Homo sapiens: one gene and its partners. The protein of the gene in region 1 purifies or fractionates together with the protein of each later gene. This does not show direct contact. Each region holds a gene or a part of one and is shown on either strand. Other genes may lie near its edges.

What was found.
Region 2: the proteins of CCR6 (region 1) and LCLAT1 purify together in Homo sapiens (affinity purification with mass spectrometry; one large-scale study listed by BioGRID and IntAct). This does not show direct contact.
Region 3: the proteins of CCR6 (region 1) and P2RX4 purify together in Homo sapiens (co-immunoprecipitation; one large-scale study listed by IntAct). This does not show direct contact.
Region 4: the proteins of CCR6 (region 1) and GOLGA5 purify together in Homo sapiens (co-immunoprecipitation; 2 studies listed by BioGRID and IntAct, with this or other methods). This does not show direct contact.
Region 5: the proteins of CCR6 (region 1) and TSPAN3 purify together in Homo sapiens (affinity purification with mass spectrometry; one large-scale study listed by BioGRID and IntAct). This does not show direct contact.
Region 6: the proteins of CCR6 (region 1) and PODXL purify together in Homo sapiens (co-immunoprecipitation; 2 studies listed by BioGRID and IntAct, with this or other methods). This does not show direct contact.
Region 7: the proteins of CCR6 (region 1) and ATP9A purify together in Homo sapiens (co-immunoprecipitation; 2 studies listed by BioGRID and IntAct, with this or other methods). This does not show direct contact.

The regions. Positions count from the first base shown.
Region 1 is NC_000006.12:167,132,436-167,136,934, reverse strand, and holds part of CCR6 (C-C chemokine receptor type 6), read right to left. Parts: intron 898-4,499; 5' UTR 801-897; coding exon 792-800; intron 696-791; coding exon 1-695. UniProt on the Homo sapiens protein: Receptor for the C-C type chemokine CCL20. Binds to CCL20 and subsequently transduces a signal by increasing the intracellular calcium ion levels.
Region 2 is NC_000002.12:30,526,704-30,531,429, reverse strand, and holds part of LCLAT1 (lysocardiolipin acyltransferase 1), read right to left. Parts: intron 1-4,726. UniProt on the Homo sapiens protein: Exhibits acyl-CoA:lysocardiolipin acyltransferase (ALCAT) activity; catalyzes the reacylation of lyso-cardiolipin to cardiolipin (CL), a key step in CL remodeling.
Region 3 is NC_000012.12:121,226,442-121,231,167, reverse strand, and holds part of P2RX4 (P2X purinoceptor 4), read right to left. Parts: intron 2,636-4,726; coding exon 2,555-2,635; coding exon of another isoform or gene 2,551-2,554; exon of another isoform or gene 2,540-2,550; intron 2,444-2,539; coding exon 2,302-2,443; intron 2,206-2,301; coding exon 2,069-2,205; intron 1-2,068. UniProt on the Homo sapiens protein: ATP-gated nonselective transmembrane cation channel permeable to potassium, sodium and calcium. CTP, but not GTP or UTP, functions as a weak affinity agonist for P2RX4.
Region 4 is NC_000014.9:92,800,805-92,804,304, reverse strand, and holds part of GOLGA5 (golgin subfamily A member 5), read right to left. Parts: intron 1-3,500. UniProt on the Homo sapiens protein: Involved in maintaining Golgi structure. Stimulates the formation of Golgi stacks and ribbons. Involved in intra-Golgi retrograde transport.
Region 5 is NC_000015.10:77,052,884-77,057,609, forward strand, and holds part of TSPAN3 (tetraspanin-3), read right to left. Parts: intron 3,373-4,726; coding exon 3,181-3,372; intron 2,981-3,180; coding exon 2,906-2,980; intron 1,397-2,905; coding exon 1,295-1,396; intron 47-1,294; coding exon 1-46. UniProt on the Homo sapiens protein: Regulates the proliferation and migration of oligodendrocytes, a process essential for normal myelination and repair.
Region 6 is NC_000007.14:131,501,652-131,505,306, forward strand, and holds part of PODXL (podocalyxin isoform 1 precursor), read right to left. Parts: intron 2,858-3,655; coding exon 2,660-2,857; 3' UTR 1-2,659. UniProt on the Homo sapiens protein: Involved in the regulation of both adhesion and cell morphology and cancer progression. Functions as an anti-adhesive molecule that maintains an open filtration pathway between neighboring foot processes in the podocyte by charge repulsion.
Region 7 is NC_000020.11:51,760,665-51,765,390, forward strand, and holds part of ATP9A (probable phospholipid-transporting ATPase IIA), read right to left. Parts: intron 1-4,726. UniProt on the Homo sapiens protein: Plays a role in regulating membrane trafficking of cargo proteins, namely endosome to plasma membrane recycling, probably acting through RAB5 and RAB11 activation. Also involved in endosome to trans-Golgi network retrograde transport.

The DNA of each region.
Region 1 (4,499 bases):
GTGTAACAAAATATCATGAACATCAAAGGGATAAAGAAACCAAAGAGTAGCTCAAGCCCCAACATCAGCAGCTTCCACCTGATGGGCTCCGAGACAGTCTGGTACTTGGGTTCACAGACATCGCTGCCTTGGGTGTTGTATTTTTGGTTGAAGACAAAAGTTGAGCTGGAGATGATGACTGACAGCCCCCACACAACAAGGCAGATGATTTTGCTGCGCGGTAGTGTTCTGGATCGGAGCCGGAATGACTTAGTCGCCTGTACAATGGCGATGTACCGGTCCATGCTAATGCAAGTCAGGAGCAGCATCCCGCAGTTAAAGTTGATGGCATAGATGCCTTTTAGCAACTTGCACGTGGCATTGCTGAAAACCCACGCACCGGTGGCATGACTCACTGCCCAGAATGGGAGAGTAAGAACAAAGAGGATGTCTGCAATGGCCATGTTCAAGAGATAGACGTCTGTCATAGACCTGGCCTTCTTATAAAAAGCAAAGGTGATCACCACCAGAATATTCCCCAGGAGGCCAAAGACACAGATCAAGGAGTAGGCAATCGGTACAAATAGCCTGGAGAACTGCCTGACCTCCTGCAAGGAGCACAGTAACATCTCAGAATCAACTGAGTAATATGAAGTATTGACTGACACAAAATAATCTTCACTGGAGTCGAAAACATCGCTGAAATTCATTGATTCCTGGAAAGGAAACAAAGATAGAGTTAGCTGCAGTGTAGTGTTCAAGTAGCCACAGTGAACCCAAATTATACCCCTTGCCAAAAATAAAAATCTTACCCCGCTCATTGTGGGCAGAAAAAATGCAAGCTGGTTGTAGAAAAAGGAGTGTATGGTTCAGCCCCTTCAGCTCACAGGCAGCGGTAGCAGGAAAGTAGAGGTGACTCTAAGAAGGAAAGAAGGCAAAATGCACTACAGTTAACACAGGTATTCCTGGAGAGCCAGACAGTTAAGTTACCAGCATTCCATCTCGTGTGAACAGAGTGCACAGCACACTATTTTACATACAAATATTCATTGAGAATAGGCATCAGCAACCTCTTTCTGTAAAGGGCCAGATAGTAAATATTTTAGGGCTTTTCAGGCCATATGGTCTCTGTCACAGCTCCTCAAATCTGCCTTTGGAGCTTGAAAGCATCTACAATTACATAACTGAACAGGCCTCGCCGGGGTCCGTTGGCTAGAGGCTATAATTTGCCAACCCTTGATCTATTGGTTAAATAAGGTGCTCTCAGAAATCCACAAGTTTTGATCTGCACAAAAATCTTTACGCAAAATTTAAAAACATTCAACAAGATTTTACTGAACAAAATCTATAGAAGTGTGAAAGCGCATAGAAAATGTATAATTCATAGTCCCGGGCTTTAAATCGTTCACAATATATGTCAGTGATGATCACCCCTGTGGGCATGTGAGAATCTCCAGTAGAATTTAAAGTTTGACTATGAGTGCTGTTCTCAAGACACACTGAACAAGCTGCTCCAGCCTGGGAAGGCGCTGGAGAGGAATGCACCTGCTTCTCCACAGCCGCAGACCTTTCCAGTAGACATTCCAGGTCACAAGCATGAATCTGCTGTGGCAGAGGCATCCTAATCATCAGAAATCCAAATGCCAGAGGAAAGGTGGAGGCTGGCACAGTTAGGAAAGACTTCCTGGAGGAGGAGGCTCTGATCAGGGTTCTTGGAGAATGGTGAGGCTATGGGCCAATGATTGACAGAGAACCGCCATCTCCTTCAGGTGACCAGCTCGTCTCAGGCTGAAGAGCAGTCCTGAGTCATGAGCCCTGTATGTTTGTGAAACAGCTGAGCAACCAGCCTGGCCGAATCAACTGGATTGTCAGGAAACAATGGAGTATACCGTGTGCTGGGAACGCCAGCAGTGGCGGTGCATGGGTCCAGGCTGAAGAAGTTTAGCAGGAGACCGGGAAGAGCTGGAGCGGTTGTGGAGCGCCTGAGGACGAAGGGCTTTGAAATCCACCATCTGAAGCAAACTTAAAAAGAAAGAAAAACCCTTCGCTATTCTCAGGCTCACTCCTTCTTTCCAGCATTGTCCATCATCCTGTTTATTAACACGCCCTGGACGTCCCCCAGTAAAATCCATGGCCTGAAACGCTCTGATATTGACGTTGGATGTGCTTCCCAGCCAATCGCCCATCTTCCTCCTCTTTTCCCTGCTCTCGCACCACGTGGGCCTGGCCATGCCAAGCGGGAGCAGCTAGGGAAGTGCAGCCCCAGGTGCACAGGCAGAGAAAGTGGAACTGCCCTCCTCGCCCCCACACTGTGTCATATCAGTCCTCACTTACGAGTCCACGTGGATACTGACCTTTTGGAGAGGAAGCCCATGTAACACAAAGTTCACCCTGAATTATTTTCCAAACCTATTTCTTACATAATTTTGATTCTCATTTCATTATTTACTCCACCCCATTCCTTCCCTGATGCCTGGAGTCACAACTTAGAGATCGGTTCTTCACTGCCCCTCAGTCACTGCTTTGGGCCTAAAAAGCTGGAGGAAGGTATGGAGTCACCTCTGCACTTTTGTAATCCCAGCAGGTATACAGTTGAGTGCTTTAGAGTATGCAGAAGAAGCGTGGTATAGACCCCTGTGTTGCAAAAGCATGTGACGAGGTAATCGTATCAATCAGAAGAAGCACAGCAATCAGAACACCACTGCTAAACTTCAGCTTCCAGCCACGGTGGATCAACAGAGACCAAAGGCACCCTGCTGCATTAAACAACTAGAAAAACCTACAAAATGTAACAACCATTTTCAGACCTCGGCACTAGGCATCACAGGATTATGGATCCTGGCAGGAGGAGAACAAATACAGTGAGAAATGATACACACTCTTTCTAAGCTGCAGAGCATGGCAGGGGTGGAGGGCATGGGAGGTGAAATATACAATATGTAAAATAAAATACACCAATTGGAATTACCATTTGGATGTTAAAACTATATATATATATATATATATATATATATATATATATACACACATATATCATATATAATAGTATCAATAATTATATATACAATTGTATCATAAAATGTAAAATACTTATGGATAGCTCTAACAAAATTTATGTGAGATTTATATGCTAAAAACTACAAAACATTGTTGGCAAAAATTAAATAAGACCTAAATTAATGGAGAAATTTATCATGTTCAATTTTCAATGACATTTCATGTTCAAATTTATCAAAGATTCAATTTCAAGATATAATTTCTCCCCAAATCGATCTGTAGATACAACATAAACTAAATCAAAATTATGGTAGGGTTTTTTTTTTGAGAAATTGACAAGTCAATTCCAAAATTTTTATAGAAATTCAAGGAAATTAAAATAGCCAAAACAATTTTGAAAAAGATAAAAAAAAAATGGAGGACTCACACTACCCAGTCTCAGAGCTGACAAGGAACTACACTAACCATGACGGTGTTGGATTTCTGAAAGGACAGTTACATAAATCACTGGAACAGAACAGAGGCCAGACATAGATCCACATATAGATGGCGGACTGATTTTTAACTTAGGTGCCAAGGTAACTCAATGGGAAAAGAACAGTCTTCAGTAAATGGTCCTGGAATGACATGAACAAAAAGTCGATCCTTACTGCTTACCTCACACCATTTGCAAAAGGTAACTCAAATGAGTTATAAATCTAAATGTGAGAGCTAAAGCATAAAACATCTAGAAGGAAAAATGGGAGAAAATCTTTGTGACCCTGGAAAAAGAAGCTTCTTATATAAATTGCAAAAAGAATGAACTGTAAAAAAATTGATAAATTGTACTTGATTGTACAAAATGTAAAACTTCTGCTCTTTGAAAGACACTCAAGAAAGTGAAACATATATATATTGAATAGAAAAAAGTATGTTAAAGCTTATATCTGATAATAGGTTATATCCAGAATATACAAATAATTTTTACAACTCCCTATCAAAAACATAAACAATAAGAAACAGGGGGAAATGTGAACAGGCAATTCACCAAGGAAAATACATGGATGGCAAATACACACACAAAAAAGACGCTCAATGCCATTAATCATGAGGAAAATGCAAATTAAAACCACAATGAAGGCTGGGAACAGTGGCTCAGGCCTGTAATCCCAGCAATTTGGGAGGCCGAGGCAGACGGACCACTTAAGTCCAGGAGTTCGAGACCATCCTGGCCAACATGGTGAAACCCCATCTTTACTAAAAATACAAAAATTAGCCAGGCGTGATGGCGTGCTCCTGTAATCCCAGCTACTTGGGGGGCTGAGGCAGGAGAATCAGTTGAACCCGGGAGGCGGAGGTTGCAATGAGCTGAGATTACGCCACTGCAGTCCAGCCTGGGTGACAGAGAGAGACTCCGTCCAAAACACACACACACATACACACACACACACAGACACACACACAGAGATCCCACTGGAAGGACTAAGATTAAACAGGGGGCTGGAAGCTGGGAGAGGACATGGTGCATCTGGGGCTCTCACACT
Region 2 (4,726 bases), on another chromosome or scaffold:
TTTCAAAAGGGTCCATAACCGCTCAACTAATTATAACCCCTACTCCAAAAAGTCCCTTGAAAGTGAAATACCTACATGGAAGACCTCCTGGTAAAAAGGATCATGGCAGAGTCCTACAGGTGTGGATCCACAGCAAAAAATGTCCCTTTTTCTTTTTTTTCTTTTGAGACGGAGTCTCACTCTGTCGCCCAGGCTGGAGTGTAGTGGCGCGATCTCGGCTCACTGCAACCTCTGCCTCCCGGGTTCAAGTGATTCTCCTGCCTCAGCCTCCCGAGTAGCTGGAATTACAGGTGCCCGCCACCACACCCAGCTAATATTTTGTATTTTCAGTAGAGACAGGATTTCACCACGTTGGCCAGGCTGGTCTTGAACTCCTGAACTTGCGACTCGCCCGCCTTGGCCTCCAAAAGTGCTGGGATTACAGGCATGAGCCACCGTGCCCGGCCAAGAGTTAAAAATCTTAAGCCTATAAATTCCAAACCTCAAATCTAAACCTATATATGCAATCTCTAATATATGATACCTATAGATCCCAAACAATCCTTTGCTTTTCATTATGAAAAATAACATAAAAAATCCAAGACTGGGATGGGTGTGGTGGCTCACATATGTAATCCCAGCACTTTGGGAGGCTAAGGCAGGAAGATCGCTTGAAGCCAGGAGTTTGAAACTAGCCTAGGCAACATAGCAAGACTCCAGCTCTACAAAAAATTTTTAAAGGCCAGGCATTGTGGAACATGCCCAGAGCCTTAGCTACGCAGGAGGCTGAGGCAGAAGGATTACTCGAGTCCAGGAATTTCAGGTTACAGTGAGATCTGACTGCACCACTACACTCCAGCTGGGCAAGAGAATGTAGTCTCCAAAAAAGCAACAACAACAACAATCAAGACCATGTGTCCAGGAACATCTCATATAACATGACATCCTCTCCCTTGACATCCAGCATTCTACCAGAATATGCCTGAAAGTTATAAATAACCTTTGGGCAGCCAAGATCTCAAGTCCACATTAATTGGTTGTAATACCAGATGAGACATATCCAGTCAACCTTATTTACAGCTCCTGCAAAGGCAGAAAAACAAATATACTACACAGAAATAAAGCTGTAATATCTATACAGAACTCCAGAATTCAATTAATCCAGACTAAAAGACTGGGAAAAAAGACACTATTCTCACATTTCTCATGTTTATTTTATTGCTAGTATAGGAGATAATAGTGTCAACAGTAATAAATCTAACAAAATTTTATAATGCATTGTTTCTTATATTGAAGAGTAACAATTCTGATAATTTTTACCTAATTGGTCAAAGATTTCTCTGTGTATTATTTAACAGAAATATGGAAGCATTTTCCAAGGATCTTTTATATACCACTACTTACTATGTCCAAGTGTTCCATTGTGTATAAAAACACAAAGATGAGAGTGGTTCCTCTCAAGATCACAGAGAAAGTTTTACCATCATGCCCGCTGCTCTCACTCTCATTTATCATTCTGATGGATCTTTACTTAGTCTGAGGTAATAACAACTCATCTCCATGTCTGCTTTTGCTTTTCAGGCTCAGATTAGGTCTGGTTCTCCAAATCCCTAGCTACTTGAGGCTTTGCAATCCCAACTCATTCTTCAAAACACTGAGCACCCACTTTGTTAAGAGCAACAGTGTAGACAAAAATCACATTCAGCAATCTATGTTTATTCAACACCTGTTTTGTGCTAGGACTGGAATGGTATCAGAAGGCTGTGGAAGAAACTTGTGCCCTGGGTAGACAGTTAGAAAATGACCTCTAAATTCCTAAGGCATGATTTATGGTGAAAGGACAGAACTCCAGTAATTTTCATAATCCCAGGTAGTAATCAGACTGTCGGTTAGTTAGAATTTTGAGAAGCAAAAACTGCTCTGAGCACATGCTGAGTTTGACCCTTACAATATTCATTATGTTGAACAGAATGGTCCAAAAATAAAAGGAACAAAGGCATGCACTCCGAATTATAGAAACATTCAAAGAAAGACTGAATGGTCACCCTGCAGATAGTTCTAGAACGGATTCTTGCCCACAGAGTTAGGTTAGACAAAGTGACCTCTAAGTCTCATCTAAGATTCTAAAACATTTCACTGCTATGCCTCTTTTAGCACAGAAATGTGCTCCTTAAAAATAGTAAGACAAGAAAAATCTTGCCAACAAAATCATTTTAATCCACAAGAGAAACTTAATGAAAGAGAAGATCATTTTGTGACTATTTTTGTGAAGCAATAATTAGTTTAAGTGCATTTATCCTAATTTATTTTTAGTGGAAAATTATTTTTAACTGTTTGGGATTGCTTAAAATAAAGTACATCAATAAGGGATAGAAGAAAAGCTTTTAGATTAAATTCACTCTGAATTTAAAAAGAATATATTTTATTATTGCTTAAAAACTCCTTTAGCTCCTTGTACGAGTATGAGATAAAAGGTGATAAAAGACACCCTTGATGGTTCTTCTCTGTTTCCTTCAACAGAGATGTTCACTATCTCAAAACTAGAATATCAATTTTTCTGTAACCTAGCTATAAGGAATTCAACATCTATACATTTCTTAACTAAAAAAACTTTCTCTGTCTGATATGCTGTAACTAGTAAACTAAACAGCTGAGTGACAGCAGTTTTCCAAATGTATACTAATTTTTTACTAGTACTGTGGTAGTTAAATCTTACCCATGTGTTAAACTGTCCAAACAGCTAATAAGACAAAAGTTAGGAATAGGTGAAATTATCTTTGAAAATCTCATAGGATGGTGCATCTCAAAAGATCACACTATCAGTAAGTCCAGCTCAGCCAATCTTCTCCCAAAATTGTACTATATTGATATTACCCTACCTGACCATCAGACAAAGTGATTGGTTTGTATATTGTTTAAAAATATCTATCTTTAAACACAAGAATCACACTCAGCAGAGAACCACTCATATTTCCTATTTCATCTCACATGAAGCAGAAAAAAATTCATTCTCTTCTCTGCCCACTCTTCCCTTACCTTAGTGCATGTAATTGAAACTGTACAAATACTGTAGGTGTATAATGTAATTCTGCAGTAATAGTAATGCTACTAGCAGTAATAATAGCAGAAATAGCTATTGCAGAATTTGTTTGGTAACTTGTCCTATAAATACCAGCATTTCTTCCAGATTAAGAATTTTAACTGTGCACATGGCTGCCCAGAAAAAAAAGACATTTCCCAGATTCTATTACAGCTTTTAGCTGCTCTTACCAATAGAGTAAGCAAAAGTGATATGTGCAACTTGCTATGTACTACACACGTGAGTCACTGGTATAGAAAGAAAGCATTTGCTCTGGACTTCCTCCAGAGTGGGGCAAAGAAGTGGCAGTGACCCAGTCTTGACCAAATACAAGAGGACATTATACCAGGCTGGAGGCCAAGCTAGGTGGATTAACAGGATAGAAGACATCTGAACCCTTTGATGACATCAGGGACCGTAGGGACCTTGCCAGCCTGGACCTGTAAGTCAATATAGTTCTACTGTATTGGAGCCACTATATTTTGAATTTTCTCCAAAACACCAGTTTAGCCTAAAATTAATATAAAAGCAAAACTAAAACTAAAACTAAAATTAATATAATACCAAATATTTACCGGGTACTTACCAAATGGCAAGCATTATACTAAAAAGGCTATATATTTATTACCTCATTTAGTCATTACAATGACTCTCTGATGTAAGTAGGTAGTATTAAGACTCCTTTTTATAGAGATGAAGAAACAAAAGCTTACAATGAGGCTAAGGAGCTTAGCCAAGTTCAAATGACTAGAAAGTGGGAAGGCCAATAGTGAAACCAAATATCTGTCTGCAATGTCTGTGAAAATAAGCACTCTGCTTATGCTCGCTCTCCAAAAATTAGAGTGACTGGACACTGTAAAGCATTACAACTGTAGTAATTTTTACCAATTCTCAGAACTCTCAAGGTTTTGGCAGAAAGATTCAACAAAAATGTGTGGTTCATAATTAAAGGATTATATACTATAGAAAACTGATGACATTTAGAAAATGGAGTACAGTAACAATACATGACTGTTACAAAAAATCTTTTACCTCTGAATGTTTGCTTTACAATCAGATATACAATTCTGAATCCAGAATAGATCTCAAAGATCATTTACTCCAATTTCTTTATTTTACAGATGATGAAACAAACACTAAAAATAGTTACATAAATGACATGAAAACAGTCAAATGTTTCAATAGGAAATGTCTCTGATTTTATGATGACAGCAAAATTACTTAACATACAGTTTGTAGATGACGTTTTAGAAGTATCTACTTGTGATGATTAATATTACATAAACTGAACAGTATTCTTATTTTACTTAATATATGTATATAGAGAAATACCCACCTTGTAAATAGAGAGTGATAGTGGTTAAGCAGCAACAAAAAATGAGTATTTTATGGCAAATGGTATGTTTAGGGTTGCAATGAAACACTGGGCTTCATATCTTTAAAGCTAATTTAAAAATGTAACTCTAAAAATTAATAGTCTTAGAAGTCAACTTCTGTCCTCTAAAAAAAGAAAAAGACTTTTAGTCACATGAAAGCCAGAAAAGAAATTAGTCAAGCTCTGTAAATCTACAATTAGGATAAGATATTTTAGGTAGAGGACTATTATCTCCTCAAGGACAGAGATCATATCTGTCCTGTTCATCACTGCATCCTAGCAAAATGCTAGGT
Region 3 (4,726 bases), on another chromosome or scaffold:
AAAATACAAAAAATTAGCTGGGTGTGGTGGCGGGCGCCTGTAATCCCAGCTACTCAGGCGGCTGAGGCAGGAGAATGTCTTGAACCCGGGAGGCAAAGGCTGCAGTGAGCTGAAATCGCACCACTGCACTCCAACCTGGGTGACAGAGCAAGTCACTCCCTTAAAAAAGAAGAAAAAAAAAAAAATATATATATATAATGGCTATATATATAATGGCTATATATATATATACACATATATACATATACATATATGAGAGAGAGAGAGAGCGAGCACGCGAGAGAGCGCACACGCATGAGCAGGGGATGGATGGTTGGTGAAGAACCGTCAAGACATACCATCTGCTGCCCCATGTTCTCCAGGGATCCATCAGGAGCCTCGGCCCGCACCCTAGCTCCATGCTCTATCTGGCCCACAACTTCCACGCCATGGGCCAGGCCTGGGAGACACAGGCAGGGCCTGGTGCTGCCCGAGGTTGGGGGATAGGCGTCCTGAGTTCTTTCCGTTTTAGGGCTCTGACCTAAGCTTGAGGTTTCCACAAGAAGTGTGTGACAGTAGAGATGGAATAACACAAATCTAACTGCTAGAAAAGAAAAATTCAAATATCTGCTTTACTCAGTGAGCCAGAAGGTTCAAAAGGACAGCAGATCCCACAATTACAGAGGTCTTAGGATCCCGTATGGATCGGATTCCACACGTCACCACTAGGGGGAGGCAAGTGCAGCCCAAAGCACCGCTGACCGCGCCCAGGGATGGTCCTTGCAGGGCCTCTTTTTTTTCCCCCTGAGACGGAGACTTGCTTTGTCGCCCAGGCTGGAGTGCAGCAGTGCGATCTCGGCTCACTGCAACCTCTGCCTCCCTGGCTCAAGCGATTCTCCTGCCTCAGCCTCCCAAGTTGCTGGGATTACAGGCATGCGCCACCATGCCCAGCTAATTTTTGTATTTTTTTTAGTAGAGATGGGGTTTCGCCATGCTGGCCTCAGGTGATCTGCCCGCCTTGGCCTCCCAAAGTGCTAGGATTACAGGTGTGAGTCACTGCGCCCGGCCTGGAGCGCTTCCTTTTTAAGGACTGTGAAAAATGCAACAAAGGGTACGTGGAAATTTACCTGGCTATAGATTCTGATCATGAGATCATCAGCTGTAGTGGGTTGAACAGTGTGTCCCCAAAAATTCACATCTACCTGAAGCTTGGGAGTGTGACCTTATTTGGAAATGGGATATTGGCAGACGTAATTTGTTAAGATGAGGTCATACTAGAGTAGGGTGGGCCCTAAATTCAGTGACTGATATCCTTACAAGAAGAAAAGACACAGAGACACATACAAGGCAGAAGGCCTCATGACAGGAGAGGCAGAGACTGGAGTGATGCATCCACAAGCCAAGGAACACCGTGGGCTACCAGAAGCCAGGAGAGACAAGTAAGGACTCTCTCCAGAGCCTTCAGAGCGAGCACAGCCCTGCTGATGCCTGGATTTTAGGTTGTGGCCTCTAGAACTGTGAGAACTGTGAGAGAATCAAGTCCTGTAGTTGCAAGCCACTGTTTGTGGGACTCGCTTACATCTGCCCCAGGACACCGAGATGCCAGCATTTGCAGCAGGGAACCCAGCAAGGCCTTTCAGGGGCCTCAGACCTGTGTCCCCTGCACTCTGGAGATTCTGGCACAGGTTCAACCTTTGAGAAACCAATTCCTGGGCCAGGCCCCAGAGGCCTTTGGACTGGAGGATCACAAGATCATCCGCTCCTTGAGGCAGTGAATGGAGGTCATGGCTGAGGCAGGTGCTGGAAAGCTTAAGCCCCCAGCTTCTCCTGGCTGCTCTAAGAACCATCTCAACATGTTTCTTGCGGCAGGAAAGGGCAAGGAGGGGTCTCGGGGGCCGGGATGGCCCCGGAGCAGGACACCACTAAGGGCATTTTCCCAGCATGGCCTTCCCGCCGCCTTGGACGGGGGACCGGCAGCCTGCCCTTGGGGTGCTGCCTGAGTGCTGGTCTTCAGTGGGCGGCCCACTGGCACGTACGCAGCCACCAGCACCCCCTACAACATGAGCGAGGGGCCCAAGCTCACGCCCACCTGAAATTGTAGCCAGGAGATACGTTGTGCTCAACGTCCCGTGTATCGAGGCGGCGGAAGGAGTACCTGGGCAAGCAGAGGGAGGCGGCTCTGTCCAGGTTGCAGTCCCAGTTGACCTGGATGCCCATGATGCCTCCCTGGGGATGAGCAGCAGAGACACGGCAAGGCTTTCCTCAGCACCTGGCACGAGACGCCTCCAGGGCTGGGTCAGGAGAGCCAGGGCCCGCACCCACCTCCACGGCCATGTCCTGGAAACTGTGTCCTGCGTTCTCCACTATTTTGCCAAGACGGAATATGGGGCAGAAGGGATCTGTTTTAGCATCATAAATGCACGACTTGAGGTAAGTAGTGGTGATGTTGGGAAGGATATTCCTCCTAAAGTCGAGAGGAAGCAGAAAATCAGAGCGACGAAAACCTCAGAGAAGAGAGAAGAGCCAGAAGTTTCTCCAAGACCCTGGTGAACTCACACACCTGGCCACCACTTACTTGCTGAAATTAAATTTGGGATACCAGATGTTGTTCTTAACCAAAAGAGTGAAGTTTTCTGCAGCCTTTAAAAAAGCAGGTCTGAAAAACAATGATAACATTACTGTTAATAAAATACATACAAATACTCACATAACCATGTTATATATATATATATACACACATATATATATGTATTGTGTGTGTGTGTCTGTGTGTGTGTGTGTGTATATATATATATATATATATTTTTTTTTTTTTTTTTTTGAGATGGAGTCACTCTGTCACCTCGAGTGCAGGCTTGAGTGCAATGGCGCGATCTCAGCTCACTGCCACCTCAGCCTCCCGTGTAGCTGGGATTACACAGGTGTGAGCCACTATGCCTGGTTAACTTTTTTTGTATTTTTAGTAGAGACAGGGTTCCACCATGTTGGTCAGGCTGGTCTCCAACTCCTGGCCTCAAGTGATCCGCCTGCTTCAGCCTCCCAAAGTGCTGGGATTACAGGCATAAGCCATCACGCCCAGCCTATATATATTTTTGAGACAGGGTCTTGCTCTGTTGCCCAGGCTGGAGTACAGTTGCATGAACACAGCTTCTTGTAGCCTCGACCTCCCAGGCTCAGGGGGTTCTCCCACCTCAGCCTCTCAAGTAGCTGGAACTATAGGCATGCATCACCATGCCTGGCTAATGAAATTTTTTTTTTTTTTTTTTGTAGACATGAAGTCTTCCTACATTGCCCAGGCTGGTCTTGAACTCCTGACCTCAAGCAATCTTCCTACCTCCGCCTCCCTGTGCTGGACTACAGGAGTGGGCCACCATGTTCAGCCCCTATGTAATATTTTTAAAAACATATACACACATCTTACAATGTCATTTTGTCAAGAAGATGAAACACGTCTAGCATTTTCTACACCCTTCTGCATGCACACTCTTCTCTTCCAAGAGAAGACACTGAGCCGAGCCTTCCAGGTTCTTCCCCTCAAGGAAGGGCAGGCCCTCTCCCCCAAGGCGGTGAAAACTGAATTGCTAACCAGGGAGGGGATTTGTGGCCTCACTGGAAATCAGTAGGCCTGGCTTTGGGGCCGCAGGCGTTCTCCAGGGAGAGAATGAAGGCTGGGCAGATCCGGTTTTACAGGTCAAAGCAAAAGTAAATTTGCCTACAGGCTGGATCCTGACCTGTCTGAAAAGTGCACAAAGCACCCGCCAGCAGGTGCGCCGGCCTCTTCTCAGAAGTGCCACGTCAGCTCCTGGCTGACAATACAAGTTGAATCTGTCCCCAAGGGGACTCCATTTCTTTGGTGAATTTCTCCTGGAGAATCTGGCACTGTATGGCTAACCCTTCTGTGGGGGATGTTCCCCTGATCCAGGTGGGATCTTTGGAATGACAACATCAACAGTCTTCCCAGCCCTGAGACAGGAGCAAGGTCAGTGACAGGGCTGCACTCGGAGGAGAGCTGAGCCTGTCACCACTGCTGTCAGAGAAAGGCTGGGACCAAGGGGCTTCTCTCAGGTTTTTTTTTTTTTTGAGATGGAGTCTTGCTCCTGTTGCTCAGGCTGGAGTGCAATGCCGCGATCTCGGCTCACTGCAACCTCTGGGTTCAAGTGATTCTCCTGCCTCAGCCTCCCGAGTAGCTGGGGTTACAGGCGTGCACCACCACGCCTGGCTAATTTTTTCATATTTTTAGTAGAGATGGGGTTTCACCATGTTGGTCAGGCTGGTCTCAAACTCCTGACCTCAGATGATCCACCCACCTCGGTCTCCCAAAGTGCTGGGATTACAGGCATGGGCCACTGTGCCTGGACTTCTCTCAGGTCTTCAAAGTCCCCACTCCCTCAAGAGGGATGGCTTACAACAGGGGTGTTCAAGTTTTTGTCATTTCCTGTACCGTAACACCCACACACACACCTGTGTACCTCACATGTAATACTTTAAGATCAACTCACCTTTTTAGAGAAATTGAGATGAAATTCACATAACATAAAATTAACCATTTTAAACTGGACAATTCTGTGGCATTTAGTACATTCATAATGTTGTGCAATCATCACCTCTGTCTAGTTCCAAAACGTTTTAGTCTTTGTTCTGTTTTTGAGACAGGGTCTTATTCTGTCACCCGGGCTGGAGCGCAGTGGCATGATCTTGGCTCACTGCAACTTCTATCTCCCGGGTTCAAGCAATTCTCGTGCCTCAG
Region 4 (3,500 bases), on another chromosome or scaffold:
TGCCTGAGTCCAGGAGTTGGAGACCAGCCCGGGCAATACAGTGAGAACTCGTCTCTACAAAAAATTTTTAAATAATATAAAAAATAAAATATTAAAATTCAAAAAATAAATTAAGTATATATCCAAATGTGGGATGATATCTAAGGCAGTATTCTGAAGGAAATTTATAGCCTTGGTTACATTAAAGATGAAAGGCAGGAAGGAAGAAAACTAATGAGTTGTATATCCATCTTAAAAACTATAAAAACAGCAGAACAAACCCAAAGAAAGCAAAAATTAACAAAAGAGGAAATAAACATACTAGAGAGGATCAGCATAACCAAAAGTGGTTCCCTGGGACAGATATAAACAACATTAGGCCATCAAATTTTAAAATGTACAAGATACTGAAATCTATCAATTGCACAATACTTATCGTGCAGTTTATTGCATGTGAATTATACTTCATTAAAGCTGTTTTAAAAAGCAGGCATTTAGTGCAGTGCCAGAAACAGGGTAAGGATTCAATATATGCCAGATACTGATATTCTTCACACAGTATGCATGATCAAGCATTGGTTTTTGCAGGGTTGGTATGAATAACTAATGTTTGGTTGCGTTGAAAGTTTCAGCTGTGACCCCTACATTATTTTCCTGAAATTAAATAAGTATAACCCCTCAAAATGTGTATGACATTGACAAATTCTTGGGGAAAAAAACGTAACTTACCAAAAACAGATTCAAGAAGAAATGAAAAGCCAACTGAATCAATAGTTAAAACCTTTCAGTAAGAATACCCCAGGTCCTGATGGTTTTAGCACAGAGTTCTAGCAAACGTTCAGGAAATAAATAATCTCAGTCTTACACCAATTAATTAACACAACAGAAAAAGAAGGAATACTTTCCAATTCATTTGATAAGGCTAATATAACTGTAATACTAAAACCTAACAATATCGCAGGCCGATTTCGCTTATAAAATAAATGCAAAAGGTTAGGTGTGGTGGCTCATGCCTGTAATCCTAGCACTTGGGAGGCCAACACAGGAGGATCCCTTCAGCTCAGGAGTTCAAGACTAGCCTGGCAATATAGTGAGACCTTGTCTCTACAAAAAATGAACAAAATTACCTACGCATGGCGGTGTGTGCCTGCAGTCTCAGTTACTATTGAGGCTGAGGTGGGAGGATTGCTTGAGCCTGGGAGATTGAGGCTGCAGTGAGCTGAGATCCCACCACTGCACTCCAACCTGGGCGACAGAGTGAGATCCTGTCTCAAAATAATAAAAATAATAATAAATAAAAATTAAATTAACTAAATAAATGCAAAAATCCTAAAGGGAATATTAGCAAACTGAAAGTTAAGTTTGGTTTTATATTTAAAAGTATCAACTGGAGCTGGAGCTAGGTGCAGTGGTGTGCACCTGCATCCCAGTGAGTTGGGAGGAGGAAGTGGGAGGATTACTTGAGCCAGGAGTTTGGGGCTGCAGTGCACTATGATCATACATGTGAATAGCCGCTACATTCCAGCCTGGGTAACACAGCAAGATCCCATCTCTATTAAAAATAAATAAATAAATTGATTTATTAAAAATAAATAAATTGATTTGTATACTATATTAATATTAAAGAAGAAAAACTATATTATCTCCAAGGGTAGAGGAAAAAACATTGCTAAAATTCAACATGATAAAACCTCAAACTAGACATTTATGGGAACTTCCTTAAACAAATAAAAAAACTATAAAAAACCTAATGTAAAATCATACTTAGTGAAACAAAGTATTCCCTCTAAGACAAAGAACAAGATACAAAACTGGTCGTTGAGTCCTAGCCAATGAAGAAAAGGATTTTTTAAAAGATAAAAGGGCTAAGAAGAAACAAACTGTCATTATACACAGATAATTGTGTTGTTGAAAATCTAAATTTATGTCCAGAAAAACATGAAGATTAAGAGCCATCTAGATTGCTATGTATGTACACACAAAAAAACAACAAAAAATACACCAGCAATAACAAAGCAAAACATTTTAAGGAATACCACATATAATTGTTTCAAAAAATATAAACTACTTAGGAATAAATCTAACATAAAGTATATAAGATCTTTATGGAGAAAACAATAAAATTTTAATGAAAGACACTACAAAATATGTTGAAATTATATCCCATTGGTGGATAAGAAAACTCAGTATAGCAAAAGTGCTGACTCTCACCAAACTGTCTATATAGAAGCAATTAATTCCCAATAAAAAGACCAACAGAGTTTCTGTGAAACTTGATGAGCAAATCCTAAAATGCATACAGGAGTGGAAAGGTCCATGAACAGCCAAAACATTTCTGAAGAAAGACCACAAGGTGGAAGAAGCTACCCTATCAGTTATCAAGACACATAAAACTACATTAATTAAAACAGGGTGGCACTGGCACAAGGATACACAAATAAACCAATAAAACAGAATTAAGTGGCCAGAAACACACTAATGAATACTTGATATATAAGACAGGTGGTACTGCAAATTGGTAGGGACAAGAGACTCTGTTCAATAAATGATGCTAGAATAGCTGATTTCCCTATGGCAAAAAAAAAAAAAAGAAAAAGGGAATTGAATGCCTATCGCACACTATAGAAGACAATACAGAAAAATATCTTTATGATCTCAGTGTAAGGAAAGATTTTCCAAGACACAAAAAACACAAGCCACATGCCATCTACATTAAGAACTTCTATTCATTGAGATGCCATAGACAGAGGGGAGGGGAAAAACCAAGGTAAAACTGGAGGAGGAAAAGAATTTAGAATTTAGAATATATAAAGAATGTCTATGAATCAAGAAGAAAAAAGACAAATAATCTAACAGAAAAAAGTTGATAAAAAAGACTTGACACTTCCAGAAAATGAAAGTTCAATAGTCAAATATCTGAAAAGATCTTCAACCACACTAGTAATGAAGGAAATAATATCAACGACAAATCTGATCAGCAAAAAGTAAAAAGTCAAATTGAAAATAAAAAATGTTGGTGAAAATGTGGAGCAAAAGAAGTTCTTAACCATAGCTGGTTAGAGTATAAATTGGCACAACCTCTGCAGAAAGCCACTTTGGCATTACTAGTGTAGCTGAACATTGTTAAACCCTACAGCTCAGCAATCCCATTTCTACACATTTCTAGGCATCTCAGGACATTGGTTCTCAACTGGGATGATTTTGCCCTGCAAGGGACATTTGGCAATTTGTGGAGACATTGTTGGTTGTCACAATTGGGGGTGCTACTACCACCTAATGGGCTAAGAGGCCAGAGATGCTGCTAAACATCCTACAAAGAACAGGAGGGCTTCCCACACTATTGAATTAATTTGGCCCAAAACACCAAGTCTCAAGGTTGAGAGGTCCTACCCAAGAGAAACAATTTTTATAACTCCTGTGTATTATAACCAGTTCTAATTCATTTCCCTGACAACGAGGTTCCCTTTAGGTCCATTCTTTCTAATTAAATGCAAGCTGCTTTCTTTAAAAGTACAAAAATA
Region 5 (4,726 bases), on another chromosome or scaffold:
CTGTATTTTCCCAGTCTGAGTAGTTGTGAATTCCACAACAATGCAGCTAAAGGAGAAGAGAATAAGTATTATTTCTCACAAAAACCAAATACCTGAAGTTCCATGTACTACAGAGCTTTAAAATAAGCTACTCTAGACCAGTGATGTCCGATACAACTTTCTATAATGGAAAGTCTGCATGATCCAATATAGCAGCCACTAGCCACATGAAGCTCTACTGAGCACTTAAATTGTGGCTAGTGTGACTAGAAAACTGCATTTTAAATTTTAATGTAAACAGCCAGACATGGCTAGTGGCTCCAGAATCTCCATATGAAAAGTACATTGCCAGGCCGGGTGCAGTGGCTCACGCCTGTAATCCCAGCACTTTGGGAGGCCGAGATGGGCGAGTCACCTGAGGTCAAGAGTTCAAGACCAGCCTGACCAACATGGTGAAACCCCGTCTCTACTAAAAATACAAAGGCTGAGGCAGGAGAATCACTTGAACCCGGGAGGTGGAGGTTGCAGTGAGCCAAGATCGCGCCACTGCACTCCAGCCTGGGCAACAAGAGTGAAATTTCGCCATCTCAAAAAAAAAAAAAAAAAAAAAAAAAAAAAAAAAAAAAAAAAAAGAAAAGAAAAGTACATTGCCTATAAGCGGTAGTTTCTAACTAAGGAAAATCTTCATGTCTTACATGTTAAATATCTGGTTCCATGTTAAATATTATTTCCAATGACAAAGTATTTAAAATATTTGGTCTTAAAAATTTTGAGATTTGCTTTAAGATAATGAAGCAAAAAGTAAGTAGGGGCAATAAGACTGACGAAAAGTTGATATTACTGAGGCAAGGTCGGGGTGCAAACATCTATTACACTATTCTTTCTACCTTTGTGTGTATCAGACTGTCCATAACAACTTTTTTTTGACAGTTTTTCTGTTGCCTTTTCTTATCTTGTTTTCTAAAGGTATATATAGACCTCCCACCTCCCCTGGAGTCAATCTGGACTCCCACCTTTCCTGTGACACATACCTCTCTCTTGCGTCATCACCCCTTTGGCTAAGTACTTTGGGAGAGTACAGACTGGGGTCAGGGAAGGGGAAATCAGATGATAAAAAAAAGTTCAAGATGTTTCTCATCTGGCTAGGTGATGAAATAAACTTTTCAAGGGTGAAGGTTGGGGAAAAATATTGGTCACATCAGGATAGCCATGTATGTGAAGAAACATGGCTAATTTACACAGAAATAGCAGTTAGTTTAATGTTGACCCAATCGTGATTGGTCCTCAAAAACAAATCTGCCTCAAGAAAGCTCACCTGTCTCTGTACATAATCAATAGCCCGGCTAGCAGCATCAGGGTTGGTTCCATTGTAGGTCTTATACACTTTCTGAATGCTGCGATCAACCTCATTTTCCACCTGAATCAGAACAAAGAATTCAGTCCCTCAAAAATACTAGTAAAAGTAACATTAGTCAAGGCTCCTACTAAAATACTTAAATGAAATGTTTGCAAGTTGCCAGATATCTATGAATTTCCTGTAAAGTTTTCTCCCTTCCTGCCTTCATCTTCATATAGATATAGATGAAGGCAGGAGGGAGAAAAGTGACAGGTAAAAATTCAGACATATACCACATACATTCAAGCATTCAAAGAGAAGATTGTGTGCAAAATGGCAGGCTAACAATGTATTCAAAAGGGAGAAAAGTTGAGGCTTGGGATAGATGTCCTAAATTATAAATGGATGCCTTCCTTTTACAAATAAGTTACTCATTTTCCTTTCCTAAAGGAGGTAAAACAAAGTAACTCTGAAGCTCCTGTAAGATACTTTTAGGACAAATGCCAACATTATTTCCATTTTATTTATTCAACGTTTAGAGTTGGCTAAATGTGCAAAAGTAATCGGCAGGTTTAAAAAAATCAGTCCTTAGAAATGGCACTTTATGAAAAAGCTACTGTTCAATGTATTGCAAAAAGGAGACAGGAAACAAGCTTCATAGCTTATTGCTGCCAATTACTAAAATGGCAAGCAAGTATCACTTAGTAAAGTTTGCTTGTACCAGATCCTCCTTACCCCTCGGAGGACTGGACTTATCTGGTAATTACAACAGTAATATCATAAGTCCATAAAATTGATAACCAGATCATAGGTAGGGACATAATCCATTGCATTTTTTTTTTAGCACAGCTTTACAGTACCTTACGTATCAATGATCTGAAAATTAACTTGGCATATTATGCCCTTGACTCAAAACCATTAAGTTATAATGAGAATGAGTCTATTATGTCTTTACCATGCCTCTAAAATTATACCCATATTAATTAATTTAAAGCAGCCTGTTTAGCCTTAAGTAGTACTACAGGTAGACAGCAAAATCAGGCAAAATAGAAAGGAAGGAACGGTGAAATGATTAAAAAGAATGAAGGGCAAGAAAGGAGTGCTGGCACCAGCTGCCTTGGTGTTCTAAGTTGGCAGGACCCCTTGTTCCTCAGGACAGGGGTGGAAGGTGGGATCACAACTCACAACACCTTTTTCTATGTTTAGGACCAAAGCATTTTTTAAAGAGACAATGGAAAACGCAATTCTGAGTTTGGTTCTTCTAAAGCAGAAATCAGAAAATTATGCCTCCCCTCATATAGGCAATCTGTGTGCTGAGGAAATCTGAACAAACTTCTCAGCTAATTATTCATTTGCAGCTATAAATACCTATAATCAAGAACAATACATATATAACACTCTGCTATATTAAATGAGGTAAGGAGTCTTGACATGTAAATATTTGCCAATTAACTTTAGATATTTGAAATACAGATTAAACAAGTAAGGCAAAAGAAAATGTTTACTCTGATAAAATGAATGTGTTCTATTTTACTTGAAACACTTAAACCACCTTTTAAGGCATTATGTGAATTACAGTAGACAACATACCTTTGCTCTGTAAACATATCCCAAAACCACTACAACAACTTCTGTGACAAAAACCAAGAGCAGGATGATGACAAACTGTAAGAAAACATGGTTTAAAATTATATACAAATGAAAAAATAACTTTAAATACACTCTTGATTTAAAAAAAGTTATCAGAGATAATTGCTAGAAGTTTAAATGTTAACTCTGTTCCAACTATAAGAGCCAAGGAGTCTCATGTTCAAGGAGAGTAGCATAGACTAAATACTCCTGCATGTTCTCACAACACATCTTACCGTGGCAAGTCCACAGCGACTTTCCCGGATTGTGGCACAGCAGCCAATTAGCCCAATGATGAAAAGCAGGGCTCCTACAGCTATGATCACTACAGCAGGGATGAGCGTGTACACATCTTCAAAGAAGTGGTCATAGTCATCATAAGTGATGAAGACATAGGCTCCCACATAGCATAAAATGCCAGCTGCCCCCTGTAGAAAACAAAGTCAGTACTGGTCTCTAAGCACTGCTGGTAAAAATTTCCTATTATTGCTTAGTATGGTATAATTTAATGAGAGTTACCGTAACTGTTATAGACTTTTTTCAGTAAAGCTGAAAATTCTATGATTCCTTGTTAAGAGCATTTCTATACTAGATAAAATTAAAAAGTTATCCACACTTCACCTACTTTTCACGAATTGATGGTTCAGCTAGGACCAAGAAACCATAACCAAATAATAACAATGATGATGACACACACCTACACATCCCTAAAGGCTTACTGTAGCTCAATTCCACATCCAATACGGATCAGTATGGTGGTAGGGGGATCTTTGCTCACTACAGTTGCCCTCAATAAGTGGGGAAATTTGGTAGAAATGACAGAGCTTGGATTTGAACTCAGGCAATCTGACTCCAGAATCTACACTTCTAATCTCTATCTACCCCACCTCAAGGAAAAGAAAATACACCAACTAGTAAGCATGATACCCACCCCACTTCCAAAAATCTTGCTGTCCTAGAGACAGTGAAATGGCAAAGCTAGAGGGCTCAGTCATTAAAGAACACTGCAAGTCCTCTATCAATTCTTTAGAATGGTGGTTCTCAAACTTTGAAGTGAATAGGAATTGCCTGAGGATCTGAATAACAAGCAGATTGATTCAGGAGGTCTGAGGAGGAGCCTGAGAGTCTGCATTTCTAACAAGTTCCCAGGTGATGCTGGTGCAGCTTCTTCTTGGAGCGCACTCTGAGTAACAAGGTATTAAAGACCTAAAGGGAAAGTGAACACACAAAGACAAGTGATAGGTGTGTCTTATTTCAGCTGCTGCTCCAGGCATCATTCTCCAGCTGCAGAGTCTTACTTTCTCCGCTATTGTCAATTTTGCTATCTTTGGGTACCAGCTCTGTGCTGACAGCCCAATGCCACTGGCTCATATACAAACAAGCAAATGCAGTGTCAGAGTAAGTGTTAAAACATTTGGTTATCACTTGGATAACAATGAGTTATCATTTGTAGAGTACTTTGAAACTTTCACAAGAAGTATTTCATCATCCTTTAAAATTTAACATATAAATCATCTTCAAACTAGAAACAGCTGCCACAGTGATACTGGAAATATCATTAACTTCTCTGAACCTGAAAACCCAGATCATTTAAGTTTATGAAATTCAGTAAGCTTGGGGATCATCAGTATATTTTTTTACACTAGGCCATTAGGATCACTGTCAGATGAGGAAGAAAAAGACTCCATTTATGTAAATTTGGGAAAGTAATTTGATTTTTTAAAATGTAACATGAACTTTTTAAAGTGAGAAGACAACTAGAATAATGAAGGCAATTTTTAA
Region 6 (3,655 bases), on another chromosome or scaffold:
ACCACTGAAAGAGCTGATGATAAACTGTCTTTGCTACAACCTGTTTAAGTCATGCTGAGCTTCTAGTGTTCCTCTTACCTCTTCCCAGACCCAATGCTCTCTGAATTATCAGAGAGCATTTAGAACCCAGTAAAGGTGGCAGAAGATGATGACCTTTATAGATGCATGGCTGTTTGGCCTGTTGACATAGGTGTCCTGGTGGCAAGAGCAAGGCAAGGTGTCAGATTCTGAAGCTGTCCTAAGCCTAGACTAACACAGTTTGGACGAATATAAAGCAGTAACCTCTGAATCAGCCCAGAGCCTCTCCGGGTTCTCCTTGGACAGAGCGATGGAGAGTCAGGAGAGTCAGGACCGACCTGGCCAGGCACTCCTGCTCTCTAGTCCTTGCCAGTCATCATCTGTCTCCAAGAGGCCATAGGGTTGCAGCCTTTGATTGATTTGCAGAGGCCTATTTGCTGTCTCCGTCAAAAGCCCTGGCTGGTGAAGTGTGACCCAGGATCAGCAAAGGAGGAATAATCCAGTCTGGCCTCTCCCACGGGACCACAACAGAAAACCTACTGGGTGGAGAGAACCCAGCGCTGGGCAAGAAGGAAGCAAACACCTCACTCAAGCCTAACAAGATTTCCTGTTTTCCCCCAAACAGGCACTGTTCTCCATCCTGCCCACCTCCAAACACTAGAGCATCGGGGCAGATGTTTTTGGAACTTGTTAGCCTCGCATCCCTCTAACTCCTGGGAAACTCGCTGGGGCCCTATGTGAACCCCTGGCCTTCCTTTTCCCCTAGGATATCAGATGGCTACAGACTGTGAGGAAGGAATTAGGCAGATGGTGCAGGACAGATCTTCCCCAGCCCCTCCCCCTACCCTTTTAAAAAGTAAGCCATCCCGAGTGGATAGCCTATTTCATCAGAGCTACTACAGCCGGAGCCTGACTCTTAAGACCCTGGAGGTGTGGCGTTTCACCCGAAAAATGGCAATTTCATTCCCCTAAGCAGTTCTGCCCATTTTCCTACTTGATCCCAGGGAATTTACGCCCAGAACGATGGAGACCATGGCGAAAGTTCAACATTCCACACAGGATTCCCCCTTCTCAATCAGATGAAACCTCACCATGCCCACTGCTTAGGAGCCTTCTACATGGCAGCTAACTGCCGAGCCCATAAAAGTCCTATATTGGGGAATAGACATAGCTTTGTGTTCCCCTGAGATGCCACCAGAAACTGCAAGAGAACCGCAGCAGCCCCACTAGGCTCACAGAGAAGAGGAACAGCAAGGCCTAGCTCCAGGCCAGGACAGTGGGACGTTCCCACAACAGTCTGTCCCCCAGGCTGCCCTTCATGCACCCAGCATGCACTGCGCTTTCCAGGCCCTCTTTTCCTGTGGCACAGGAGAATCAGAGTGAGTGAGATGAGCTAACTGGACGTCTGCCAACTGTCTGAGCTTTTGGCCTTTGGCAGTGGAGGGCTGGGTTAGAAAACAACTATAACAAAACTCTCAGCAACTTGAAATGTCCCTGAGTTTCCTATGATATACAGGGGAAAGCCTGTCCTTCCTGGCTGCTTTAATGGATTGTCTCTGAAGACACATCGCTGATGGGGGGCCCCGGGAAGGCCTCTCCTGCAGCCACTGCTCTTTCATACTGGGTCTCAGGGAATCACTCCCATCAGCTGAGCAGTGAACAACAAAAGGAACACGCTGCTCTCACTAGCTACAGCAGATTTTAGTCCCTGGTGGAAATGGAAGCCCAAAGAAGATCGTGGGTGGCCTCTGCAAGGAGTGCCAGGGGCAATGGGCCAGTGTTCCTGCTGACCCCTCATCAGCTGCCCTGAGATACCAGCCTGGACTCGAGTGTCCCCTTCTCTCCTCACCTGCACGCAGGTCCCCTAAGCAGACCTGGTTCACGCACGGAGACCTGTGTGGGTTAAGCCCCCATCTCACGAAGCAAATGTGAGAAAATCCGAATCCAGAACAAGGGGTTCAAGGTTATGAATAACCTGTGCTAATCCCAGAGGCCCCAGGACAGAGTAAGTGGGAACAAACACTGAGTGTAGGGAGGGGTAAGAACATAGAGGGTGGGAAGATGGGTACACGAGGCTGGGGTAGGAGAAGGAAAACTTGGGAGCTGGACTTTCAGGTCGTCAGATCCCACCGAGCCAGGATGTAGCCCTGCCCTCCTTTCCAGCCCAGCCACCTGCTGGAGTTTCACCCCTGCCCGGGACTGCTCTGGACGGAAGGCACATGTGAACACAGCAGTGTGGCATGGTGCAAATGGAATCTTTGTTCTCATCCTGGCTCTGTCACCAAGTGGCTCTGACCTTGGGCAAGTCACTTACCCTCTTCAGGTCTCGGCAATCTCACTGCAGAATGAAGGGATTCCACTAGTTCATCTATAAAGTCCCTTACGTGGCTTTTTCTTGATCTCCCTCATCATCCAGCAGCACTGAGCTCAGGCACTAGTGGGTTATTTTACAAGAGGAATCTGGACAGAATGTGATTTGTTCAGGTTGAAAAGGGAAAAATTAAGGCCCTGGGGGGATTGGGAGGGGACACCCCTCGGAGTTCACTCTCCCTCCCCAGTCTTTCCCTTCCCCATCCAAACGGCACTTGGGGTGGTTGGTCTGGAGCTCTGTGGTGCTGCTGGAGGCCACCGGCAGACCGGACTAGAGGTGTGTGTCTTCCTCCTCATCCAGGTCGTCCTTGGTCAGGTTGTCCAGAGGGACGATCCAGCTGTCCCCCAGCTCCCCGTTGAGGCTGACCACCTTCTTCTCCTGCATCTCAGAAGAGGTCTCCATCACTTCCAGTGTTGGGTTGTCATGGTAACCATTCTCCACTGTCTGCAGCTCCTCTGTTAGCCGCTGCTAGAGTGGGGAAGGTGACCGGTGAGAAGGGGGTTTCAGAGGGCTCTGAGCTTAATACAGCGCATGTACGTACCCCTCCCACTCAGGAGCCCCACTGTAGCTAAAGCAGGCCCTCATTGCTCGCCTGTGGGGCTGGCTGCTCCTGGTGGTCATTCTGGCTCTCAGCCTGCCCGGAACTAGTTGGGAACAAAGACTTGCCCCTCACCCTCACCCTGGTGGCAGAACCTGTGAAGTTAGTGGAGATGGACTTTGTTCTCCAGAGTCCTCTAAGCTCTCTCCTCCCCTTCATCCCTTCCCCCAAAACCTCCTCTCCAGGCACCTACCTCACCTATCATAATGAATGGGAAAAACACTATTAAAAAATGACCTCTCTCGGGCTGGGTGACTGAGCCCTCAAGCCTGGGCAGGATGGGTACGGTGTCTCTAGAATCATCCCTGCGGCAGACAGCAGCCATCTGGCAGAGGCGCTTTCTGTCCCTCTCAAACACAACCTTGAGTGTATGCTAGAATCACCTGGGGAGCTTTTAACAACTACACTGATGGACTCAGAGATTGTTTGAATTGGTGTGGGAGGCAGTCAGGCAAGGGAATTTTTCTAAAGTTCCCCACGGTGTGCAGGCAGGAGTGAGAACCACAGGGTCTGGGTGGCACCATCATGGCGAGAATTCTAGTAAGGTAGGCAGAAGAATTTTTGGTTAGACAGAACACCTAGGCCTGCTTCTATCAATGAATCCTCAGACCAGCTCTGCAAGGAGGTTATCCCTGCTGTGCAGATGAGGAACCTGATGCCCAAAGAGC
Region 7 (4,726 bases), on another chromosome or scaffold:
GCAGTGAGCCAAGATCACGCCACTGCACTCCAGCCTGGGCGACAGAGCAAGACTCCGTCTCAAAAAAAAAAAAAAAAATGCCAGGTGCAGTGGCTCACGCCTGTAATCGCAACACTTTGGGAGGCCGAGGCAGGCGGATCACAAAGTCAAGAGATCAAGACCATCCTGGTCAACATGGTGAAACCCTGTCTCTACTAAAAATACAAAAATTAGCTGGGCGTGGTGGTGGCGCAGGCCTGTAGTAGTCCCAGCTACTTGGGAGGCTGAAGCAGAGAATTGCTTAAACCCAGGAGGCAGAGGTTGCAGTGAGCCGAGACTGCGCCACTGCACTCCAGCCTGAGTGAGAGTGAGACTCCGTCTCAAAATAAAAAACAAGAATGTAAGTCCTGAGAGTAATGAGAGTCCTACCTAACACCACCTCCATCACATCAAAGAGAAAGGGCATTTTTGTTTCCTTATCAGTAAAGCAAGAATAAAAAAAATTACCAACATCAAAGGGCCATTGTGCAGCATGAAAGAGGAAACATGAGTTCAGAGCCAAAACACTGCAGGTCCTAAATAAATATTCATCTTTTTCCTCCACCGTCAGATAATGAGTCACATAAACATGCTGACATAAGCTCTATGCTCTCAGGCAAAATGTAGGACCTCTGAAATGCCTCTGATGCCTCCACCCAGGTGGCGGGCTTCCTGTCTAGATTCCAGTCCCCTTTGTGGGATGGAAAGAGGAGCACGACAATCCGTTCCCAGGGTCTGCAGCACACATCGGTGTGTGACAGCTTCTCCTCATTGTTGTAACAAATTAGCACAACTTTGGCCGGGCGCCGTGGCTCACGGCTGTAATCCCAGCACTTTGGGAGGCCAAGGCGGGCAGATCACGAGGTCAGGAGATCCAGACCATCCTGGCTAACACGGTGAAACCCCGTCTCTAATAAAATACAAAAAATTAGCCGAGCGTGGTGACAGGCGCCTGTAGTCCCAGCTACTCGGGAGGCTGAGACAGGAGAATGGCGCGAACCCGGAAGGCGGAGCTTGCAGTGAGCCAAGGTTGCGCCACTGCACTCCAGCCTGGGCGACAGAGCGAGACTCCGCCTCAAAAAAAAAAAAAAATTAGCACAACTTGAGTGGCTTAAAACAATGCAAGTTTATTACCCTACAGTTAGGTCCGAAGTCCAAAATGGGCCTCATGGGACTAAAATCAAGGAAGGTGTCAGCAGAGCCGTGTTCCTTCTGGAGGCTCCAACCGAGTCCGTTTCCTTAACTCTTCCAACTTCTAGAGTCCCCCGCATTCCTTGGCTCATGGCCCCTTCTTCCCTCTTCAAGCCAGCAGTGCAGCCTCTCCCAATCTTTCTCTTATGCTGACACTCACTCTCCTGCCTGTCTTTCGCTTTTAAGGACCCTGTGATAACACTGGGCCGGGCCAGGGTCAGTGGCTCACACCTGTAATCTCAGCATTTTGGGAGGCCAAGGTGGGCAGATAACTTGAGGTCAGGAGTTCAAGGCCAGCTTGGCCAATACGGTGAAGCCCCGTCTCTACCAAAAATACAAAAATTAGGCCAGGCATGGTGGCTCACGCCTGTAATCCCAGCACTTAGGGAGGCCAAGGTGAGCGGATCATGAGGTCAAGAGATCGAGACCATCTCGGTCAACACGGTGAAACCCCATCTCTACTAAAAATACAATTAGCTGGGCGTGGTGGCATGCGCCTGTAGTCCCAGCTACTCCGGAGGCTGGGGCAGGAGAACTGCTTGAACCGGGAGGCAGAGGTTGCAGTGAGCCAAGATCACACCACTGCACTCCAGCCTAGTGACAGAGCAAGACTCTGTCTCAAAAAAAAAAAAAAAATTAGCTGGGCGTGGCGGCGGGAGCCTGTAATCCCAGCTACGCAGGAGGCCGATGCATGAGAATCGCTTGAACCCGGGAGGTGGAGGTTGCAGTGAGTAGAGATCATGCCACTGCACTCCAGCCTGGGTGACAAGAGCGAGACCCTGTCTAAAAACAAACAAACAAAAAGATTTAAGGTGATATATCCACAAATGGCTTTTTTTTTTTTTTTTTTTTTTGAGACAGGGTCTCACTCTGTTGCCGAGGCTGGAGTGCAGCGGTATGATCAGGGTTTACCGCCACCTACGCTTCCTGGGCTCAAGCACTCCTCCTACCTCAGCCTCCCAAGTAGCAAGGACCACAGGCTCAAGCCACCATGCCTGGCTTTTTTTATTATTATTATTTATTTTTTGTAGAGACAGGGTTTCACTATGTTGCCCAGGCTGCTCTTGAACTCCAGGGCTCAAGCAATCCTCCTGCCTGGGCCTCCCAAAGTGCTGGGATTACAGGTGTGAGCCACCAAGCCCAACTGAAATTCTATTACACAATAAAAAGAAACTTCAAAAACTTCATGCTAAATTAAAGCAGCCAGACACAAAAGGCAACACGTGGTGTGATTCCATTGATAGACAATTTCCAGAAAGGGCAAACCTATGGAATCAGAAAGCGGATCACTGGTTGCCTGGGACTGGGGCAAGGGCAGGGATGAATTGCAGATGGGCTGGAGGAGACTTTCGGAGGTGATGGAAACATTCAAAACCCATGCCGGAGTGATGGTTGCATAACTCCATACACCTGGTTTTTTTTTAATCAATGGTTTACATACTTTTTTTTTTTTTTTTGAGATGGAGTCTCGCTGTGTCGCCCAGGCTACAGTGCAGTGGCGCGATCTCGGCTCACTGCCAGCTCTGCCTCCTGGGTTCACGCCATTCTCCTGCCTCAGCCTCCTGAGTAGCTGGGACTACAAGTGCCCGCCACCACACCCAGCTAATTTTTTGTATTTTTAGTAGAGATGGGGTTTCACTTGTGTTAGCCAGGATGGTCTGGATCTCCTGACCTCCTGATCCGCCCACCTTGGCCTCCCAAAGTGCTGGGATTACAGGAATGAGCCACCGCACCTGGCCAGTTTACATACTTTCAATAGATGTATGCTATATAAATTATACTTCAATAAAGCTGTTTAAAACATTGTGGTAGACAACATATCTATTCAGTTCTTCTTTCTCAATCTGATTCATATTCAAAACTTCCTAGTCCCCCAAATCCAAATATATCAAGCATCAAAGCATCCTCATCCAGTGTGGCCACCCACAAAACGTAGATTGTTACAATGAGGCAAAGTCTTGGGCCACCTGGTACCTAAGCTCCCATCCTTGCCACAACATCACACCAGGGCCTCGACATACCTGGACAGAATGCTCTACATAGTTATTCATTTTCCTAAATTTGATCAGGAAAAAGCAGTGAAATTCATATTTCTAAATTTCTCATAAAAGGCCCCTCCTCTCAAAGAAGCACACTGTAGACCCCAACGGTAAACCTCATGCAAACACCTAAGGATTACCATTAGCCCTAGTAAACACCTAAGGCATACTGAGCACTTATTCTCCTAAACTTTACATGGACTAAAAAACTATGAGATACATAATTATTGATATTCCCATTTTACAGATGAAACAACTGAGACTCAGAGAGGTAAAGTTATTTTCCCAAGATCACACAGCTAGTAAGCAGCAGAGCCTGGGTGTGAACCCAGCTCCTCAATGGACTCCTGCGTCCTGGCTCCTAACAAATAATCCCTGCCATTTCACCACAAGAGGAGCTCCATTCAGCCATAAGCAAAGGGCATGATGTCATAAAATGGTTTCCAGCAATGGAGGTGAAATGCCTTGTTTCCTAACTACACCATTTCAAAAGTTTTCTCAACATCAGGATGTGGTAACTTTCTCAAGAGAGAAAAGAACTTTGAAGCCAGGAGATTCCTCCAAAAATAAGCTGCACGTCTTCGCAACATTCGCTGAGTGACCCCAGAAATAACTGCATTCTGTCCCCTATGACATGTGGCATCGTTTTTGGTTTTTTTAACCACAAATCTTCCAACCATTCCACAGCTTTATTGCCTAGAACCATTAGGTGAAATGGGTGGATCCGGTTCAAAACTGCCTCCTCTCACAACCTCCAAGACCACGAACACATTAATATCAGTGAATCTTTGTTTCCCTGTCAATAAAATGGGAGAATTTTTTTTTTTGAGATGGAGTCTTGCTTCTTCACCCAGGCTGGAGTGCAGTGGTACAATCCTGACTCACCGCAACCTCCACATCCTGGGTTCAAGCAATTCTCCTGCCTCAGCCTCCCCAGTAGCTGGAATTACAGGCACCACCACCACACCCGGCTAATTTTTGTATTTTTAGTAGAGACAGGGTTTCACCATGTTGGCCAGGCTGGTCTCGAACTCCTGACCTCGAGTGATCCGCCCACCTTGGCCTCCCAAAGTGCTGGGATTACAGGCTTGAACCACCACATCTGGCCCCTAAAATGGGAGAATTAACTCCAAAAACTCACATGGTTGTTGTAAGGATTAAAACAGCCCTATTTATCTCAAGTGTCCAGCAGACAGCCTGACCCATTACATATTACTTTTTTCTTCCTTTAACCACCCACCCACTTTAGCCCTCACGCTGCCATCCCCCAGCCCCTAGTTCTATTTCAGGAAGCTCCTCCATCTCTCTGTGCTTCTCAAGAGTTTCTAAACTTCAGGATTCCACCTTGATGTTGCTACTCCTGAAAATGCAGATTATATACAAGAGCATTTACGCAAATGCACAGCAACCCTGATACACAATTTGAATCCAAATCCATGTCACTGTTTAAGAAATAGATTGGCCAGACACAGTGGCTC